Linked DNA regions of Homo sapiens: region 1 is linked to region 2. Evidence: fine-mapped expression QTL. A gene starts in region 2. The other region holds a variant in brackets. All regions are shown on one strand. Distances are from middle to middle.

Region 1 (9,734 bases), 28 kb after region 2:
GGGGAATAGTAGTTCTGAACCCTGGATCAGATGAATGTGTTTTTGTATAGATGTATCAGTAGGACAGAGTGAGAGGGTATGAGCACTAGCCATGACAATTCGATGGGTCTTAGTATTCTGCTTGTTTAAAAGTAATGGATATTAATGCCATATAATTGGAGGAGGCCAAAAGGTCGCTCTTATTAGATACTGGGCTTGCTTTGGGATAGTTGGGTTGTGTTGACGGCTAGGGATTGATTGGCCAAACTGAAAACAACACTAAGTGAGTAATTTTTTTTTTTGAGACAGACTTTCACTCTGTCACCCAGACTGGAGTGCAGTGGCACAATTACGGCTCACCACAGCCTCGATCTCCTGGGCTCAAGCAATCATCCTACCTCAGCCCCCCAAGTAGCTGAGATTACAGGTGCATGCCACCATGCTCGGCTAATTTAAAAAAAAATTTTGTAGAGGGCCTGTTGGCTCACACCTGTAATCCCAGCCTAGCAACATGGTGAGACCCCACCTCCATAAAAAATTTAAAAATTAGCCAGGCATGGTGACTGGTGCCTGTGGTCCCAGCTACTTGGAAGGCTGAGGTAGGAGAATGGCTCGAGCCCAGAAAATCAAGGCTGCAGTGAGCCATGATCGTGCCACTGCACTGCAACCTGGGTGACATAGTGACACCCTGTCTCAAAAAAAATTTTTTTTATTGGTAGAGATGGTGGTCTCCCTTTGTTGCCCAGGCAGGCTGGTCACCAACTCCTGGGTTCAAGTAAACTTCCCGCCTTGGCCTCCCAAAGTCTTGGAAGTACGGGGATGAGACACTGCACCCCACCATTTTTTTTTGTGATGGCATACACACCATAAAGAACTAAGATTGAAAAGGAATTGTTCATTTGAGTTTCTAAAGTTGGCCAGTATTGGCCAGGCATGGTGGCTCAAGGCCTGCAATCCCAGCACTTTGGGAGGCCAGGGCAGGTGGATCACCTGAGGTCAGGAATTCGAGACCAGCCTGGCCTACGTGGCGAAACCCCGTCTCTACTAAAAATACAAAAATTAGCTGGGCGCAGTGGCACGTGCCTGTAATCCCCGCTACTCAGGAGGCTGAGGCAAGAGAATCACCTGAACCCGGGAGACAGAGGTTGCAATAAGCTGAGATCATGCCACTGCACTCCAGCCTGGGCAACAGAGCAAGACTCCATCTTAAATAAATAAATAAATAAATAAATAAATAAATAAATAAAGTAAGTTGGCCAGTATAAAGATCACAAAAGTTAAAAAGTCAAAACAAAAATGCCCAACATGCAGGCACAGAGGTTCTTTAAGATCTCATATGCAGGCTTTGAAGTAAGCATTAAGAAAACTATATTGTTGGCCAGGCACAGTGGCTCACGCCTGTAATCCCAGCACTTTGGGAGGCCGAGGCAGGTAGATCACCTGAGGTCAGGAGTTCGAGACCAGCCTGGCCAACGTTATGAAACCCCGTCTCTACAAAAATGCAAAAATTAGCCGGGCGAGGTGGCATGCACCTGTAATCCCAGCTACTTAGGAGGTTGAGGCAGGAGAATCGCTTGAACCCAGTAGGCAGAGGTTGCGGTGAGCTGAGATCACACCACTGCACTCCAGCCTGGGCAACAGAGCGAGACTCCATCTCAAAAAAAAAGGAAAAAGAAAAAAAAAAAGAAATATTGTTGATAAGGCTAAATAGTTTCATAAATAGTACATTTTGTCAACTACTAAATAACTAGATGAGATGGCAGATTATCTATGGTACTCTTAATAATGTAAATAATTCTGTGATACAATCAGTGGATTTTAGAAAAGAAAAAATTTATATTAAATTTGCAGTTCAATAAAGTAAAATAATTTTATAACAAAACAAGATTTTGGATCGCTTGAGGGGGGTGAGGGGAGGGTCAGAGGTTGCAGTGAGCCGAGATTGTATCACTGCATCCCAGCCTGGGTGACAGAGTGAGACCCTGTCTCAAAAAAAAAAAAAATAGTATAAATATCTGTTAGCTTTATACAGTTGAAGAAATTCATAGAATATATTTAAGCTAAGAATGGGAAAGAGAGGGAAAAAATGTGTTTTTGAAACTTCAAACCATATATTTGAAAACATAATCAGATTTTAGTGTGACTGTTGTATTTATTTTATTTTATTTTATTTTATCATTTCATTTCATTTCATTTATTTCATTTTATTTTATTATTTTATTTTATTTTATTTTATTTTATTTTGAGATGGAGTCTCACTTGTTGCCCAGGCTGGAGTGCAGTGGCATGATCTTGGCTCACTGCAACCTCTGCCTCCTGGGTTCAAGTGATTCTCCTGCCTCAGCCTCCCGAGTAGCTGGGATTATAGGTGCACGCCACCACACCTGGCTAATTTTTGTATTTTTAGTAGAGATGGGGTTTCAGCATACTGGCCAGGCTGATCTCGAACTCTTGACCTCGTGATCCGCCTGCCTAGGCCTCCCAAAGTGCTGGGATTACAGGCATGAGCCACCGCGCCCGGCTTTTTTGTTTTTGTTTTTGTTTTCTGTGTGTGACAGAGTTTCGTTCTTGTTGCCCAGGCTGGAGTGCAATGACGCGATCTTGGCTCACTGCAACCTCCGCCTCCTGGCTTCAAGCGATTCTCGTGCCTCAGCCTGCAGAGTAGCTGGGATTACAGGCGTGCGCCACCACGCCCAGCTAATTTTGTATTTTTAGTAGAGACGGGGTTTCACCATATTAGTCAGGCTGGACTCAAACTCTTGATCTTAGGTGATCCCCCTGCCTCAGCCTCCCAAAGTGCTGGGATTACAGGCGTTGTGTCACCACGCCCGGCCTATATTTATGTTATTATATATCTTTATTGTTTATATTTTTGCTATGAGATGCCTAAAATCCTTTGTTGAATGTAAATAAGTAAAAATAAGTGTTTTCCTTTTTTATTCAACAGGAAAGATTGTTTAAAACTAATGAAATACCTTTTAGAACAGCTGAAAGAAAGGTTTAAAGACAAAAAACATCTGGATAAATTCTCTTCTTATCATGTGAAAACTGCCTTCTTTCACGTATGTACCCAGAACCCTCAAGACAGTCAGTGGGACCGCAAAGACCTGGGCCTCTGCTTTGATAACTGCGTGACATACTTTCTTCAGTGCCTCAGGACAGAAAAACTTGAGAATTATTTTATTCCTGAATTCAATCTATTCTCTAGCAACTTAATTGACAAAAGAAGTAAGGAATTTCTGACAAAGCAAATTGAATATGAAAGAAACAATGAGTTTCCAGTTTTTGATGAATTTTGAGATTGTATTTTTAGAAAGATCTAAGAACTAGAGTCACCCTAAATCCTGGAGAATACAAGAAAAATTTGAAAAGGGGCCAGACGCTGTGGCTCACACCTGTAATCCCAGCTCTTTGGAGGCCGAGGCAGGCGGATCACTTGAGGTCAGGAGTTTGAGACCAGCCTGACCAACATGGTGAAACTCCATCTCTACTAAAAATATAAAAATTAGCCGGGCATGGTGATGCATGCCTGTAATCCCAGCTACTCGGGAGGCTTAGACATGAGAATCACTTGAACCCAGGAGGTGGAGGTTGCAGTGAGTCAAGATGGCACCACTGCACTCCATCCTGGGTGACAGAGCAAGACTTCCTCTCAAAAAATAAATAAATAAATAAGAAAAATAAATTAGGAAATTATTAAAATAATTTTTTAGAAAAGCAACAAAATAACAAAAATTAGTGACTGTAATAATTGGAATGTTTGAAATTTGTCACAGCAATAATTGACTAAAATGAATGTAAATAATTATTCAGTTTTCAGTTTGTTGTAATAAACTCTAATCAGTATAAAGGATTGACTATCCTAGGAAAAAGATTAGTCAAGGAATAAGAAGCAAAAGTAGTATTTGAAATCTAAAAACATTACCATGTTTGCTTTATCATGCAGGCAAATAAATAAATAAATGACATTTTTAGGTTGGAATAAAAAAAGATAAAGTACATATTGCCTTAATTAAATTCATCAAGTTCTTACTGAAAAACAGCTCTCCGCCGTGCCTGGCCAGGAAATACATAATTTTTTTTTTTTTTTTTTAGATGGAGTCTCGCTCTGTCGCCCAGGCTGGAGTCCAGTGGCATGATCTTGGCTCACTGCAAGCTCTGCTTCCTGGGTTCATGCCATTCTCCTGCCTCAGCCTTCCGAGTAGCTGGGACTACAGGTGCCCGCCACCACATCCGGCTAATTTTTTGTATTTTTAGTAAAGATGGGGTTTCACCATGTTAGCCAGGATGGTCTCGATCTCCTTACCTTGTGATCCGCCCGCCTTGGCCTCCCAAAGTGCTGGGATTACAGGTGTGAGCCACCACGCCTGGCTGAAATACATAATCTTAAAAGAAAACATAAGATACTTTATTTTAATATACGTGACTAAATGTAAAACCTAACTTATTTTCTGTTATCTATTTATTTTTACTTTCAGTAACACTTTTTTTATTTTAGGTAGCATTCAGCCTAGAGGCAACTGCTGTTTGTTAAAT[A/T]TTTCCTGTTCATATATTTTGCACATTTTCTTATGGGTTAGTTTTCTTCTCATTGTTTTGGGAAGTTCTTAATATATTTGGGGTATTTATCTTTCATTCGTTGTCTGTGTAACAAATAACTTCTGCCATATGGGTTGTCTGCACATTTTTTGGTGTCTTTTAGTAAACAAGGTTTTTTTGTTTTGTATTGTTTTGTTTATTGTAAAGATTTTTAAATTTTAATGGAGTTGATTTCTTTTCTCATTCAAGCTTTTGAGAATAAATTGGAGTTGAATTTTTTATGGTTTTTGCTTTATACATCTTGTTTAACAGCCTACTATGTTTGAACATACTAAGAGAAACATTAGACATTTGAAGAGTTTTGGGGACAATTAATGATAAATAAACCACTATGCAAATAAAATAATCTAAGCAATTTTTTTTTTTTTTGGGACAGTCTCACTCTGTCGCCCAGGCTGGAGTGCAGTGGCACGATCTTGGCTCACTGCACCCTCCTCCTCCCGGTTCAAGCAATTCTCCTGCCTCAGCCTCCCAAGTAGCTGGGACTACAGTTGCACGCCACCATGCCTGGCTAATTATTTTTGTATTTTTAGTAGAGACAGAGTTTCACCATGTTGGTCAAGCTGGTCTCAAACTCCTGACCTCAGGTGATACACCCATCTCAGCCTCCCAAAGTGCTAAGATTACAGATGTGAGCACTGTGCCCAGCCAATCTAAGCAATTTTTAACTCCATAAGAAAAATGAATGCATGAAAGAAAAGTCTGATATAAGAATATTGCTCAGCTGTTTAAGTATTGACAAAGTCATAGTAATGTAACCATTGACTATTAATCTTATTGAAGTTATGGACTGTTGTCGACTTTAAAAAAATTAAAAACCAGGGGCGGTGGCTCACCCCTGTAATTCCAGCACTTTGGGAGGCCAAGGCGGGCAGATCATGAGGTCAGGAGTTCAAGACCAGCCTGGCCAACATGGTGAAACCTCATCTCTACTAAAAATACAAAAATTAGATGAGTATGGTGGTACGTGCCTGTAATCCCAGCTACTTGGGAGGCTGAGGCAGGAGAATCGCTTGAACCCAGGAGGCAGAGGTTGCAGTGAGCCAAGACAGTGCCGCTGCACTCCAGCCTGGTGACAGAGCGAGACTCCATCTCAAAAAAAAAAAAAAAATTAAAAAAAAACTTTTTTAATGTGAAAAGAAAGAAAGAAATTATGATTACCCACTCTGTGGTTAGGATAGGACAATAGGCTTAGTTCCTGTATGGTGACAGTGGTAGGGAGATTACATTAGTTTCCTGTGTAACAATTAACCACAACCTTAGAGGCTTAAAACAACACATATTTATTATCTCACATTTTCAGTGGGCCAAAATTCTGGGTGTGGCTCTGCTCAGAGTCTCTCAAGGCTATAATTAAGACGTCAGCCAGCGCTGTAGCCTCATCTGAGGCTTGACTGGAGAAGGAACCATTTTTGTTGGCAGAATTTAGTTCCTTTACATTTGTAGGACTGAGGGCTTCAGTTTCTTGCTGTCAGCCAGAGGTTGCCCTCAGTTCCTAGAAGCTGTCTTCAGTTCCTTACCATGTGAGCCTCCCAACATAGGCAGCCCACAACAGTAGCTCGATTCTTCAAAGCCAGCAAGGGAGGTACTCCAGCAAGAGGAGTGCTACAAACTTGTTTAACACAATTACATACACATAATTATGTACAGTCCGTTGCCTGTACTGTATTCTATTGATTGGAAGCAAGTCAAAGGTCCCTCTCATACCCAAGAGGAGAGGAATCACTCAAGGGTGTTCTTGTTGTCTCAGATGCCAGCGATACAGTTAGGGGGAAAACAGTTCCCATAAGACCACCCTCATTTCTGTCAACAATTGCAATTTCAAGGGATTCCTAAAACCACCCTGAGGTTTGATGAAAGACTCACAGAACTCACTAAAACCACTATGCTCATGGTTGCAGTTTATTATATAGTAAGCATGCAAGTTTAAATCAGCCAAAGGAAGAAGTGCGTAAGGCAGAGTTTAAGAGAGTAGCAAACACAGCACTTTCTGTTGTCTTTTGGTGGAGTCATGGACATGTTATTCTCTTGGCATCAATGTGTGCCAATACACGCAGAATATTGCCAGCCAGGGAAGCTCACCTGAGCCATGTCCAGAGTTCTTACTGCAGCTCATGGTTGGCTGGACATATGTCTAACCTCAGTCTCCAGCTCCTCTGGAAGGCAAACAGTATAAGCTGATACCATGACCCAAAGACCCCACCATAAATCACATTGTTATACTTTCTGGCACATTCCAAGAATTCAGCCATTACCTTTCAGAAGCCAAGGGCAAAGGTGAGACTTTTCTTTGGGTTAGGTTAAATTCCTTACTACATAGATATGAACCTCAGGAGGTGGGGGGCCACAGGACAACCCTGAGGGTCCGACTGTCACAGGTATGCAAAAACTGAATTAATCTTCCTTATAGTGGGAAGTCAGTAAATGTCAAATTTTTAAAACCAAGAAATTGCAGTATAAGCAAGTTATTAATGGCTAAAAGATGAAAAGGTTACATCTTGGGAGTGGAAAATGAAGGGTGGAAGGGTTCGGGACTACTTTTTTTTTTAAATAAAATGATTTTATTTAGTTAGTTTGTAAATGTGAATATAGTTGGCAAAAACCAAACCAAAACAGCATAAAACCAAAAAATGACAGTTATATGATTGATCATGCCCAAGTACAACAGCATTTATTAGTAGAATATAAAAAATAAATTTTATGGCTGGGTGCCATGGCTCATGCCTGTAATCCCAGCACTTTGGGAGGACGAGGCGGGCGGATCACCTGAGGTCAGGAGTTCAAGACCAGCCTGATCAACATGGAGAAACCCCGTCTCTACTAAAAATACAAAATTGGCCGGGTGTGGTGGCGCATGCCTGTAATCCCAGCTACTCAGGAAGGCTGAGGCAGAAGAATTGCTTGAACCTGGGAGGCAGAGGTTGCAGTGAGCCGAGATTGTGCCATTGCAGTCCAGCCTGGGCAACAAGAGCGAAATTCCATCTCTAAATAAATTAATTAAATTAAAAATAATAAAAAATTTTATTATTGTTGTTATTTATTTATTTATTTTTTTGAGACGGAGTCTTGCTCTGTCACCCAGGCTGGAGTGCAGTGGCGCGATCTTGGCTCACTGCAACCTCCGCCTCCCGAGTTCAAGCGATTCTCCTGCCTTAGCCTCCCAAGTAGCTGGGATTACAGGCACCCACCACCACGCCCACCTAATTTTTTGTATTTTTAGTAGAGACAGGGTTTCACTATGTTGGCCAGGCTGGTCTTGAATGCTTGACCTCATGATCCACCTGCTTTGGCCTTCCAAAGTGCTGAGATTAAGGCGTGAGCCACTGCGCCTGGCCTAAAAATTTTGTTATTTTTATGTGCTTTTTTTCCCCCAGCTTTGACTCTCTGGATGCTTTTGAAAGTTTGAGTTCCTAAGAAATTCCACAGCTAGAGGTTCCTACGATGTCACTGAGTGAGGTTAAGGTTCTGCTCTTATAGGGAGCATCTTATCCTTGGGGATTCTGGACAACTGGACCCCTAGGAACTTGAAAAACAGCTGCTTTCATTGGTATTCTTTTGACATGGGGAAAATATAGCCATTGTCCATTAAAACACAATCCAATTTGGGTACAAGTACTCTTCAGGTTTTCTAAGTTCTCCACAGGAATACCAAGACTAGGCTACCATCTTTTCTGACAACAGACTACTTTTTAAATAAGCTTTGTAAGTCCAAGATTTCTGGCAGAGAAATGTAAATAAAAAATAAAAACAAAAATAAATAAGTCTTGTAGAACCATTTGCTTCCATACATTACATGTATATTTGACTTTGATAAAAATGAAAACAATTTTTTTTTTTGAGACAGAATTTCCCTCTTGTTGCCCAGGCTGGAGTGCGATGACCTAATCTTGGCTCACTGCAAACTCCACCTCCCGGGTTCAAGCGATTCTCCTGCCTCAGCCTCCCGAGTAGCTGGGATTATAAGCGCCCGCCACCACATCTGGCTAATTTTGTATTTTTAGTAGAGACCGGGTTTCTCCGTGTTGGTCAGGCTGGGCTCGAACTCCTGACCTCTGGTGATGCGCCCGCCTCGTCCTCCCAAAGTGCTGGTATTACAGGCGTGAGCCACTGTGCACGGCCTGAACACATATTATTTTTAAATTTTTTCATTTTGCCGGGCGCGGTGGCCTGAACACATATTACTTTTAAATCTTTTTCATTTTGCCAGGCATGAGGGTGGATGCCTGTAATCCCAGCTACTTGGGAGGCTGAGGCAGGAGAGTCGCTTGAACCTGGGAGGCGGAGGTTGTGGGTGAACTGAGATTGTGCCATTGCACTCCAGCCTGGGCAACAAGAGTGAAACTCTGTCTCAAAAAAAAAGTAATATGTGTTCAATGTGAAAAAGTCAGATGTTCACGTTAAAGTGTAAAAAAAAACAAACAGTGAAAATACAGAGAAATAGCATTATTAATCTAACATTTTATTACTGGGTAGTGCCACGCAATTCCAGGCTCCTGGTGTCTTGTTTTGTTTGTTCATTTTTGAGACGGAGTCTCACTCTGTCACCTAGGCTGGAGTGCAGTGGCCCGATCACAGCTCACTGCAACCTCTGCCTCCTGGCATCCAGTGGTTCTCCTGCCTCAGCCTCCTGATTGGGACTGCAGGCCTGCGCCACCATGCCTGGCTAATTTTCATATTTTTAGTAGAGACGGGGTTTCACCACGTTGGGCAGGCTGGTCTCGAACTCCTGACCTCCAGTGTTCTGCCTGCCTCGGTCTCCCAAAGTGCTGGGATTACAGACGTGAGCCACCGTGCCTGGCCTGGCACTTGGTGTCTTGAACAAAGACTTGGATGAGACACACACAGATAGTAAATAAAGCAAAGCAGCAAAAGCTTATTAAGCACTCTCACAAAGGGGAGAGCTGACTGACTTCTGTGAGATGAGATCAGCCTGGTTTGTTACATTTCATGGCCTTTTCTTTTCCTCACTTGCTTACCCTCACTTTATTTCTTGTAAGCTAATTGCTCATCCTTGCTTAACCTTACTTTTTTTTTTTTTTTGAGACAGGGTCTCACTCTGTCACCCAGACTGGAGTGCAGTAGCGTGATCTCGGCTCACCGCAACCTCTGCCTCCCAGGCTTAAGTGATTCTCCTGCCTCAGCCTCCTGAGTAGCTGGGA
Region 2 (9,727 bases):
CCCTAAAACGGAAGGAAATTCTTGCAACATAGATGAACATTGGCTAAGAGTGATAAGCCAGTAACAAAAAGACAAACGTTGCATCATTTCACTGACATAAAGTACTTAGAGCAGTCAAAATCACAGTCAGAAAGTATAATGGTGGTTGCCAGGGGCTAGAGAGAGGAGAGAAAGATGAGTTATTGTTTATGGGTACAGAGTTTCAGTTTTGCAAGATGAAGAGTTTTGAAGACAGATGATAGTGATGGTTGCATAGGAATGTGAACATACTTAATATCATTGAATTATACACCCCCCAAAAATGGTTCAAATAGTACAAAGAAAAAAAAAGTAGTCAAGGCTTTCTAAACCCAAGAGGTTCTTGTCTAATATGCATTTCTTTTATTATTATTATTTTTTTTTTTTAGACAGAGTCTCATTCTGTTGCCCAGGCTGGAGTGCAGTGGCAGGATCTCACTCACTGCAACCTCTGCCTCCTGGGTTCAAGCTATTCTCCTGCCTCAGCCTCCCGAGTAACTGGGATCACAGACATGTGCCATCACACCCGGCTAATTTTTTGTATTTTTAGTAGAGACAAAGTTTCATCATGTAGGCCAGGCTGGTCTTGAACTCCTGATCTCAGAAGATCTAGGGCTCCTGAAGTGCTGGGATTATAGGCATGAGCCACTGCGCCTGACCTCTAATATGCATTTCTATCAGGGGCTTTAGAAATAGATACTTGAAGGCCAGGCAAGGTGGCTCACGCCTGTAATCCCAACACTTTGGGAGGCCAAAGGGGGCAGATCACCTGAGGTCAGGAGTTCGAGACCAGCCTGGTCAACATGGTGAAACCCCGTCTCTACTAAAAAGGTAAAAAAATTAGCTGGGTGTGGTGGCAGGCGCCTATAATCCCAGCTACTCAGGAGGTTGAGGCAGGAGAATCGCTTGAACCCAGGAGGCGGAGGTTACAGAGAGCCGAGATAGCACCATTGCACTCCAGCCTGGACAACAAAAGTGAAACTCCATCTCGAAAAAAAAAAAAAGATATTTGAAAGCCTGTATTGAGATACTCTAGAATCACAACAGCTGAAGCAGTATGAATGATTTAAAATGTAAATGCCAGGTCCGGTGCAGTGGCTCATGCCAGTAACAGCACTTTGGGAGGCTGAGGCGGGCAGATAGCTTGTTGGGGACCAGCCTGGGCAACATGGTGAAACCACATTTCTACAAAACCATACAAAAATTAGCTGGGCATGGTGGGGCACGCCTGTAGTCCCAGCTGCGCAAGAGGCTGAGTCACGAGAATCTCTTGAACCCGGGAGGCGGAGGGTGTGGTGAGCTGAGATTGTACCATTGCACTCCAGCCTGGGCAACAAGAGCAAAACTCCGTCTCAAAAATGAATAAAATAAAATAAAATAAAAAGAGAGAACTTTACACAACTTTTTTTCCCCCTGAGACAGAGTCATTTGCCCTGTCGCCCAGGATGGAGTGCAGTGGTCTGATCTCAGCTCATTACCACCTCCGCTTTCCCGATTCAAGCAATTCTCCCGTCTCAGCCTCCCCAGTAGCTGGGTTTACAAGCATGGCCCACCACACCTGGCTAATTTTTGTATTTTTAGTAGAGATGGGTTTTCACCATGCTGGACAGGCTGGTCTTGAACTCCTGACCTCAAGTGATCCACCCACCTTCGCCTTCCAAAGTGCCGGGATTATAGGCGTGAGTCACCGCACCAGGCAGAAACTTTACACAACATTTTAAAGATTTTCTGTGCTTTTTAAAAAATGTCAAATAGAAGTATTTACTCCAATTGCAGTCAATCTTTGTTTCATTCCATCTTGTAAAAGTTGAATATTTTCTCTTTCTTATTTTTTTCTTTTTTCAAAGTATTTTTCATTTGTTATTAATTTTTTTCTTTTTAAAAATTATTATTTTATTTCTTATTGATTTTTAAAAAACCCTATTTAAATTTACATTGAAAAAGTTGGCCGGGCGCTGAGGCTCATGCCCGTAATCCCAACAGTTTGGGAGGCCGAGGCAGGTGGATCACGAGATAAGGAGTCCCAGACCAGCCTGGCCAATATGGTGAAACTCCTTTCTACTAAAAATACAAAAATTAGCCGGGCATGGCGGCGCACACCTGTAGTCCCAGCTACTTCGGAGGCTGAGGCAGGAGAATCGCTTGAATCCGGGAGGCAGAGGTTACAGTGAGCCGAGATCGTGCCACTGCACTCCAGCCTAGGGGACAGAATGAGACTCCATCTCAGGAAAAAAAAAAAAAAAAAGGGAAAAGTTTCTGGCCAGGCGCCGTGGCTCACGCCTGTAATCGCAGCACTTTGGGAGGCCGAGGCGGGTGGATCACTTGAGGTCAGCAGTTTGAGAGCAGCCTGGCCAACATAGCGAAACCCCGTCTCTACTAAAAATACGAAAAATTAGCCGGGCGTGGTGGCGGGCGTCTGTAATCCCAGCTACCCGGGAGGCTGAGGTAGGAGAATTGCTTGAACCCAGGAGGCAGAGGTTGCAGTGAGCCAAGATCGCACCATTGCACTTCGGCCTGGGTGACAAGAGCGAAATTCTGTCTCAAAAAAAAAAAAAAAAAAAAAGAAAGAAAGAAAGAAAAGAAAAAGAAAAAAAAGAAAAGAAAAAGTTTCTGTGGCAGGGCACAGTGGCTCATGCCTACAATCCCAACACTTTGGGAGGTTGAGGAGGGAGAATCGCTTGAGTCTAGGAGTTCGAGACCAGCCTGGGCAACATAGTGAGACCTCCCCATGTATACAAAAAAATTAAAAAGAAAAGAAAAAGCTGGGCATGGTGTCCGCACCTGTAGTAACAGCTACTCAGGATGCTGAGGTGGGAGGATCGCTTGAGCCCTGGTGGCTGAGGTTGCAGTGAGCCGAGATTGCGCCCCCCTAACTCAAACCAAAATTAAATTTAAAAAAACTTTCACTTGAAAGAGAAAAGTTTCTCTGTCAATGTTTTTGTTTTGTTTTGTTTTGTTTTGTGATGGACTCTTTTTCTGTTGCCCAGGCTGGAGTGCAGTGGCGCGATCTCGGCTCACTGCAACCTCTGCCTCCCGGGTTCAAGCAGTTCTCTGTCTCGGCCTCCCGAGTAGATGGGACTACAGGCGCCACCAAGCCCGGCTAATTTTTTGTATTTTTAGTAGAGACGGGGTTTCACCATGTTGGCCAGGAAGGTCTCGATGTCTTGGCCTCGTGATCCGCCCGCCTCGGCCTCCCAAACTGCTGAGATTACAGGCGTGAGCCACCACGCCTGGCCTCTTTTTCTTTTTTGAGACAGAGTCTCGCTCTGTCGCCCAGGCTGGAGTGAAGTGGCACGTCTCAGCTCACTGCAACCTCCGCCTCCCGGGTTCAAGTGATTCTCCAGCCTCAGCCTCCCGAGTAGCTGGGATTACAGGTGCCCGCCACCACGCCTAGCTAATATTTGTATTTTTTAGTAGAGACGGGGTTTCTTTCGCCTTGTTGGCCAGGCTGGTCTTGAACTCCTGACCTCAGGTGATCCGCCCACCTCGGTCTCCCAGATTGCTGGGATTACAGGCGTGAGTCAGTGTGCCCAGGCAACACACACACACACATATATTTAATTATAAGAAAGACCAGGTCTTGCTGGGTTGCCCAGGCTGGTCTCAAACTCCTGAGCTCAAGCGACCCGCCTGCCTCGGCCTCTCGGATGCTGAGGTTACAGGCGTGAGCCACCGCGCCCGGCCCTACCTCATCTTCTTAAGACAGGGGCACGGATTGCCTGGAGAGTTAGAAACTTCGAGACTTTTGTAGCCTCAGGAAAGGCCGCGGCCAGCCTCTTCGCGGCATGGGCGTGGCTCCCAGCGACTTCCCAGCCTGGGGTTCCCCTTCGGGTCGCAGACTCTTGTGTGCCCGCCAGTAGTGCTTGGTTTCCAACAGCTGCTGCTGGCTCTTCCTCTTGCGGCCTTTTCCTGAAACGGATTCTTCTTTCGGGGAACAGAAAGCGCCAGCCATGCAGCCTTGGCACGGAAAGGCCATGCAGAGAGCTTCCGAGGCCGGAGCCACTGCCCCCAAGGCTTCCGCACGGAATGCCAGGGGCGCCCCGATGGATCCCACCGAGTCTCCGGCTGCCCCCGAGGCCGCCCTGCCTAAGGCGGGAAAGTTCGGCCCCGCCAGGAAGTCGGGATCCCGGCAGAAAAAGAGCGCCCCGGACACCCAGGAGAGGCCGCCCGTCCGCGCAACTGGGGCCCGCGCCAAAAAGGCCCCTCAGCGCGCCCAGGACACGCAGCCGTCTGACGCCACCAGCGCCCCTGGGGCAGAGGGGCTGGAGCCTCCTGCGGCTCGGGAGCCGGCTCTTTCCAGGGCTGGTTCTTGCCGCCAGAGGGGCGCGCGCTGCTCCACGAAGCCAAGACCTCCGCCCGGGCCCTGGGACGTGCCCAGCCCCGGCCTGCCGGTCTCGGCCCCCATTCTCGTACGGAGGGATGCGGCGCCTGGGGCCTCGAAGCTCCGGGCGGTTTTGGAGAAGTTGAAGCTCAGCCGCGATGATATCTCCACGGCGGCGGGGATGGTGAAAGGGGTTGTGGACCACCTGCTGCTCAGACTGAAGTGCGACTCCGCGTTCAGAGGCGTCGGGCTGCTGAACACCGGGAGCTACTATGAGCACGTGAAGGTGAGCTGCTTGGCGCCCTCCCGCCGAGCCCCGCTGCTCGGCCTTCCGCAATCCGCAGTCCCTACCTTCCCCGGGTCGCGCCCCTCACTTCCCTTCGGAAGTAACTTAGACTTTTGCATGTTTTTCGGTAGCCTAGTCTAAGTAAAACGACAAACCGTTCGTTTATTCATCTACACATCCAACGATCAGACAACCAACCGGTACTGATTGCTGGCTAATTTCAAGACACTGCTCCCGGGGGAATTCAAATGTATGGGTTCATTCATGCAAGCCGACATGTATCGAGTTTCCGTAACAGGGCAGTGTTTGATGGTGTGGACCTGAGGTCCCGAGTCAGATATTGACTTGGATAATTTGAAGTGGTCTGTTAAAAATTCCACGTAGACTTTTTCCTATGAGGAAGACCTCTTACTCCATAGAAAAAAAGATCTTCAGTTTCTCTCCCCCTCTTCCTCCCTGCCCCCTCTCCTGCTATCCCGTCTGACCCCAATTTCTTTTTTTTCTTTTTTCTTTTCTTTTCTTTTTTTTTTTTTTTGAGGCGGAGTCTCGCTGCGTCCCCCAGGCTGGAGTGCAGTGGCGCTATCTCGGCTCACTGCAAGCTCCGCCTCCCGGGTTCACGCCATTCTCCTGCCTCAGCTTCCCGAGTAGCTGGGACTACAGGCGCCCGCCACCATGCCCGGCTAATTTTTTTTGTATTTTTAGTAGAGACGGTGTTTCACCGTGTTAGCCAGGATGGTCTCGATCTCCTGACCTCTTGATTCGCTCGTCTCGGCCTCTCAAAGTGCTGGGATTACAGGCGTGAGCTACCGCGCCCGGCCGTCTGTCCCCAGTTTCTTACACAGAAATCATGGGAAGCTTACAGTATAATGTTAAACAAACAAATAAGAATATCTCCTACAGATACTAAAACGCTTTCTAGATACACATTCCGTATAATTGCTTCGACGTGTGTATTACACAGCTCCATTTGCTTGTGGGTGATTGAGTCATTAATCATTCCTGTGTAAATTGAAAGTTTAGAAGCAGGTTCCTGACTGGAGCGTGTTTCTTGCCCAGCAAGAGATTTGTTTCTTTTTCTTTTTCTTTCTTTCTTTCTTTTTTTTTTTTTTGAGACGGAGTTTCGCTCTTGTTACCCAGGCTGGAGTGCAATGGCGCGATCTCAGCTCACCTCAACCTCCACCTCCCAGGTTCAAGCGATTCTCCTGTCTCAGCCTCCTGAGTAGATGGGATTACAAGCATGAGCCTCCACCCTGGCTAATTTTGTATTTTTAGTAGAGACGGGCTTTCTCCATGTTGGTCAGGCTGGTCTAGAACTCCCGACCTCAGGTGATCTGCCAGCCTCAGCCTCCCAAAGTGCTGGGATTACAGGCGTGAGCCACCACACCCGGCTTCTTTTCTCTTCTTTTTTCTCTTCTCTTCTCTTCTCTCTATCTCTCTGTCTCTCTCTTTTCCTCCCTCCCTCTCTTCCTCTCTCTCTCTCTCTCTTTATTTTGTTCTTTCTTTCTTTTCTTTCTTCTTTCTTCTTTTTTTGATGGAGTTTCACTCTTGTTGCCCAGGCTGTAGTGCAGTGGTGCCATCTAGGTTTCGCTGCAACCTCCGGCTTCCAGGTTCAAGCGATTCTCCTGCTTCAGCCTTCCAAATAGCAGGGATTACAGGTGCCTGCCCCCACTCCCGGCTAATTTATGTATTTTTAGTAGAGACGGGGTTTCACCATGTTGGCCAGGCTGGTCTCGAACTCTGACCTCAGATGATCCACCTGCCTCGGCCTCCCTAAGTGCTGGGATTACAGGCTTGAGCCACGGCACCCAGCCCAGACTGTGTCTTGAGCATGATTCTTTTTAATTAACTAATTTACTTTTCAGCATCAGATATGTCTCTGATTGAGCATGATTCTTATTATGTAAGTATCAATTCAGTTCAATTACTGTATATGGCGGGTCCAAAGGAAAAAGAAAGTTACTAGTTAGAATTAGAGAACAAGACATTCAGAAGACAGTCTCCATTCAGAACCACTTTGTGTGTGTGTGTGTGTGTGTGTGTGTGTGTGTTTGAGACAGAGTCTCACTCTGTCACCCAGGCTGGAGTGCAGTGGCGCGATCTCGGCTCACTGCAAGCCCTGCCTACTGGGTTCACACCATTCTCCTGCCTCAGCCTCCCAAGTAGCTGGGACTACAGGCGCCCGCCACCATGCCCAGCTAATTTTTGTATTTTTAGTAGAGACGGGGTTTCACCGTGTTAGCCAGGCTGGTCTCTATCTCCTGACCTCATGATCTTCCCGCCTTGGCCTCCCAAAGTGCTGGGATTACAGGTGGGAGCCACCATGCCCAGCCCAGAACCACTTTGTTTTTAAAAATTATGCCAATGAAAAGAAATCCAGTGAAATTTGTTTTATCTAAAACTTTTTCTTTTTTTCTTTTTCTTTTTTCTTTTTTTTTGGGGATGGAGTCTTGCTCTGTCACCCAGGGTGGAGTGCAGTGATGTGATCTTGGCTCACTGTAACCTCCGCCTCCCGGGTTCAAGTGAGTCTCCTGCCTCAGCCTCCAGAGTAACTGGGATTACAGGCGGGCGTCACCTCACCTGGCTAATTTTGTATTTTTAGTAGAGATAAGGTTTCAGCATGTTGGCCAGGCTGGTCTCGAACTCCTGACCTCAAGTGATCCACCTGCATCAGCCTTTCAAAGTGCTGGGATTACAGGCGTGAGCCACTACACCCAGCCTAAAACTTTTTCTATTACTGATTATGAGATATATGTGGGCCAGGTACAGTGGACTCATGCCTGTGATCCTAGCACCATGGGAGGCTGAGGCGGGAGTTTGAGTCCAGCCTGGACAACATAGTGAGACCCCAGCTCTACCAAAAATAAGTTAAAAATTAACTGGATGTGGTGGCACACACAGGTAGTCCCAGCTACCTGGGACTACAAATTCTAGGTAAAAAAAAATCTCGAAAATACATGGGAAGTTTCTTGTAGAAATTCCCTGTAGAATTGTCAGTCCATATGTTCTTTTCATTCTAAGTGTTAATGTACTTTACTATTTATATAGTTTGGACTCAGTGAAAAGGTTACATAGAAATCAATTAATTGTAGTTTTTTTTGTTTGTTTGTTTTTTGTTTTGTTTTGTTTTGAGACAGAGTTTCACTCTTGTTGCCTGGGCTGGAGTACAATGGCGTGGGTGGCCTCAGCTCACTGCAACCTCTGCCTCCCAGGTTCAAGCGATTCTCCTGCCTCAGCCTCCCGAGTAGCTGGGATTACAGGAATGCACCACCATGCCTGGCTAATTTTTTGTGTTTTTAGTAGAGATGGGGTTTCTCCATGTTGGTAAGGCTGGTCTCAAACTCCTGACCTCAGGTGATCCACCCGTCTCAGCCTCCCAAAGTACTGGGATTACAGGCGTGAGCCACTGTGCCCGGCCAGTGGTTTTAAGTAATGGTATATTAACTGGTAAAGAAAAGGAACAAACTACAGCAACATGAACAGTGAAAATGAATTACATAAATAATGTTGAACAACAACAAAAAGAACGTAAAGGAATACATACAGCTGATGCAGCAAGACAAGGAAAATAAAGGCATAAGATGGGAAAAAGAGTGATGAAATCGTTATGTGTAGATGACTTGATTGGCTTCACATATAAACTGTTGGAAATAATTAGTAAATTAGCAAAATTGCTGGTTGCAAAGTCAATAAACAAAAATAAAAATATTTCAATATACTAACAAGATTAAAAACAAAATGAAAATACCATTTAGAATATCATCAAAAATATCAAACCTAGGTCCATTGGTGCATTCTGATAGTCCCAGCTATTTGGGAGGCCGAGGTGGGAGAATCACATCAAGTCAGGAGTTTGAGGCTGCAGTACACTATGATCTATCTGTGAGTAGCCACTGTACTCCAGCCTAGAGACCCCATCTCTAAAAAATAAAAATTGAAAACTTTGGCCAGGCATGGTGGCTCACGCCTATAATCCCAGCACTTTGGGAGTAGAGGCAGGCAGATCACTTGAGGTCAGGAGTTTGAGACCAGCCTGGTCAACATGGCAAAACCCTGTCTCTACTAAAACTACAAAAATTAGCTGGGCGTGTTGGTGCGCGCCTGTATTCCCAGCTACTTGGGAGGCTGAGGCAGGAGAATTGCTTGAGCCCAGGAAGCTGAGGTTGCAGTGAGCCAAGCTTGCTCCATTGCACTCCAGCCTCAGTGACAAGCGTGAAACTCTGTCTCAAAAAAAAACAAAAAACTGAAAACTTGAAAAACAATTTAAAAATCAAATATTTAGGAATAAATATCACTAAAGATATTCAAAACTTAAAAACATAACTGGGTAAATTTGAAGAGGAAGTAATTGACAACTATATCGTGTTCATTTTTCCTCAAATTGTTCTAGATTTAATGCAATCAGTTGAAATATGATCAGTTTTTTAAATTAAATTGACAAACTGATTAAAATATGTATTCATTTATTTTTTGAGACGGAGTCTCGCACTGTCGCCCAGGCTGGAGTGCAGTGGTACCATCTCGGCTCACTGCAACCTCCGCCTCCCGGGTTCAAGCAAGTCTCCTGCCTCAGCCTCCTGAGTAGCTGGAACTACAGGTGCATGCCACCACACCTAGCTAATTTTCATATTTTTAATAGAGACGAAGTTCCACCATGTTGGCCAGGATGGCCTTGATCTCTTGACCTTGTGATTCGCCTGCCTCGTCCTCCCAAAGTACTGGGATTACAAGCGTGAGCCACCGCGCCTGGCTGAAAGGACGATTTTTTTTTTTTTTTTTTTTTTTTTTTTTTTGAGACGGAGTCTCGCTCTGTCGCCCCGGCGGGACTGCGGACTGCAGTGGCGCAATCTCGGCTCACTGCAAGCTCCGCTTCCCGGGTTCACGCCATTCTCCTGCCTCAGCCTCCCGAGTAGCTGGGACTACAGGCGCCCGCCACCGCGCCCGGCTAATTTTTTTTTGTATTTTTAGTAGAGACGGGGTTTCACCTTGTTAGCCAGGATGGTCTCGATCTCCTGACCTCATGATCCACCCGCCTCGGCCTCCCAAAGTGCTGGGATTACAGGCGTGAGCCACCGCGCCCGGCCCGATTTTTTTTTTTCAATAAA

Which allele goes with the higher level. Alleles are on the strand shown, and positions count from the first base shown. SD is a standard deviation of normalised expression in the study named.
As copies of A replace T in region 1, the expression in monocytes of the gene that starts at base 3,853 in region 2 goes down (moderate effect, 0.51 SD a copy in CEDAR).

The links. PIP is the estimated chance that this variant, and not a neighbour inherited with it, causes the effect.
Region 1: its variant is fine-mapped to the expression of CGAS in monocytes (CEDAR, PIP 0.95). The same link has a PIP of 0.9 or more in B cells.

The regions. Positions count from the first base shown.
Region 1 is chr6:73,418,771-73,428,504 of GRCh38, reverse strand. It overlaps CGAS (cyclic GMP-AMP synthase), which reads left to right. Exons shown (of 5, transcript NM_138441.3): 5 at 2,927-4,794. The coding sequence ends at 3,278. Among named protein-coding and RNA genes, the nearest start is that of CGAS, 29 kb to the left of the region's middle. RefSeq lists a silencer at 6,625-6,919. The variant A/T (reference allele first, on the strand shown) is at 4,516.
Region 2 is chr6:73,446,423-73,456,149 of GRCh38, reverse strand. CGAS (cyclic GMP-AMP synthase) reads left to right here and starts at 3,853. Exons shown (of 5, transcript NM_138441.3): 1 at 3,853-4,625. The coding sequence starts at 3,969. RefSeq lists an enhancer at 3,572-4,051 and a silencer at 4,222-4,431.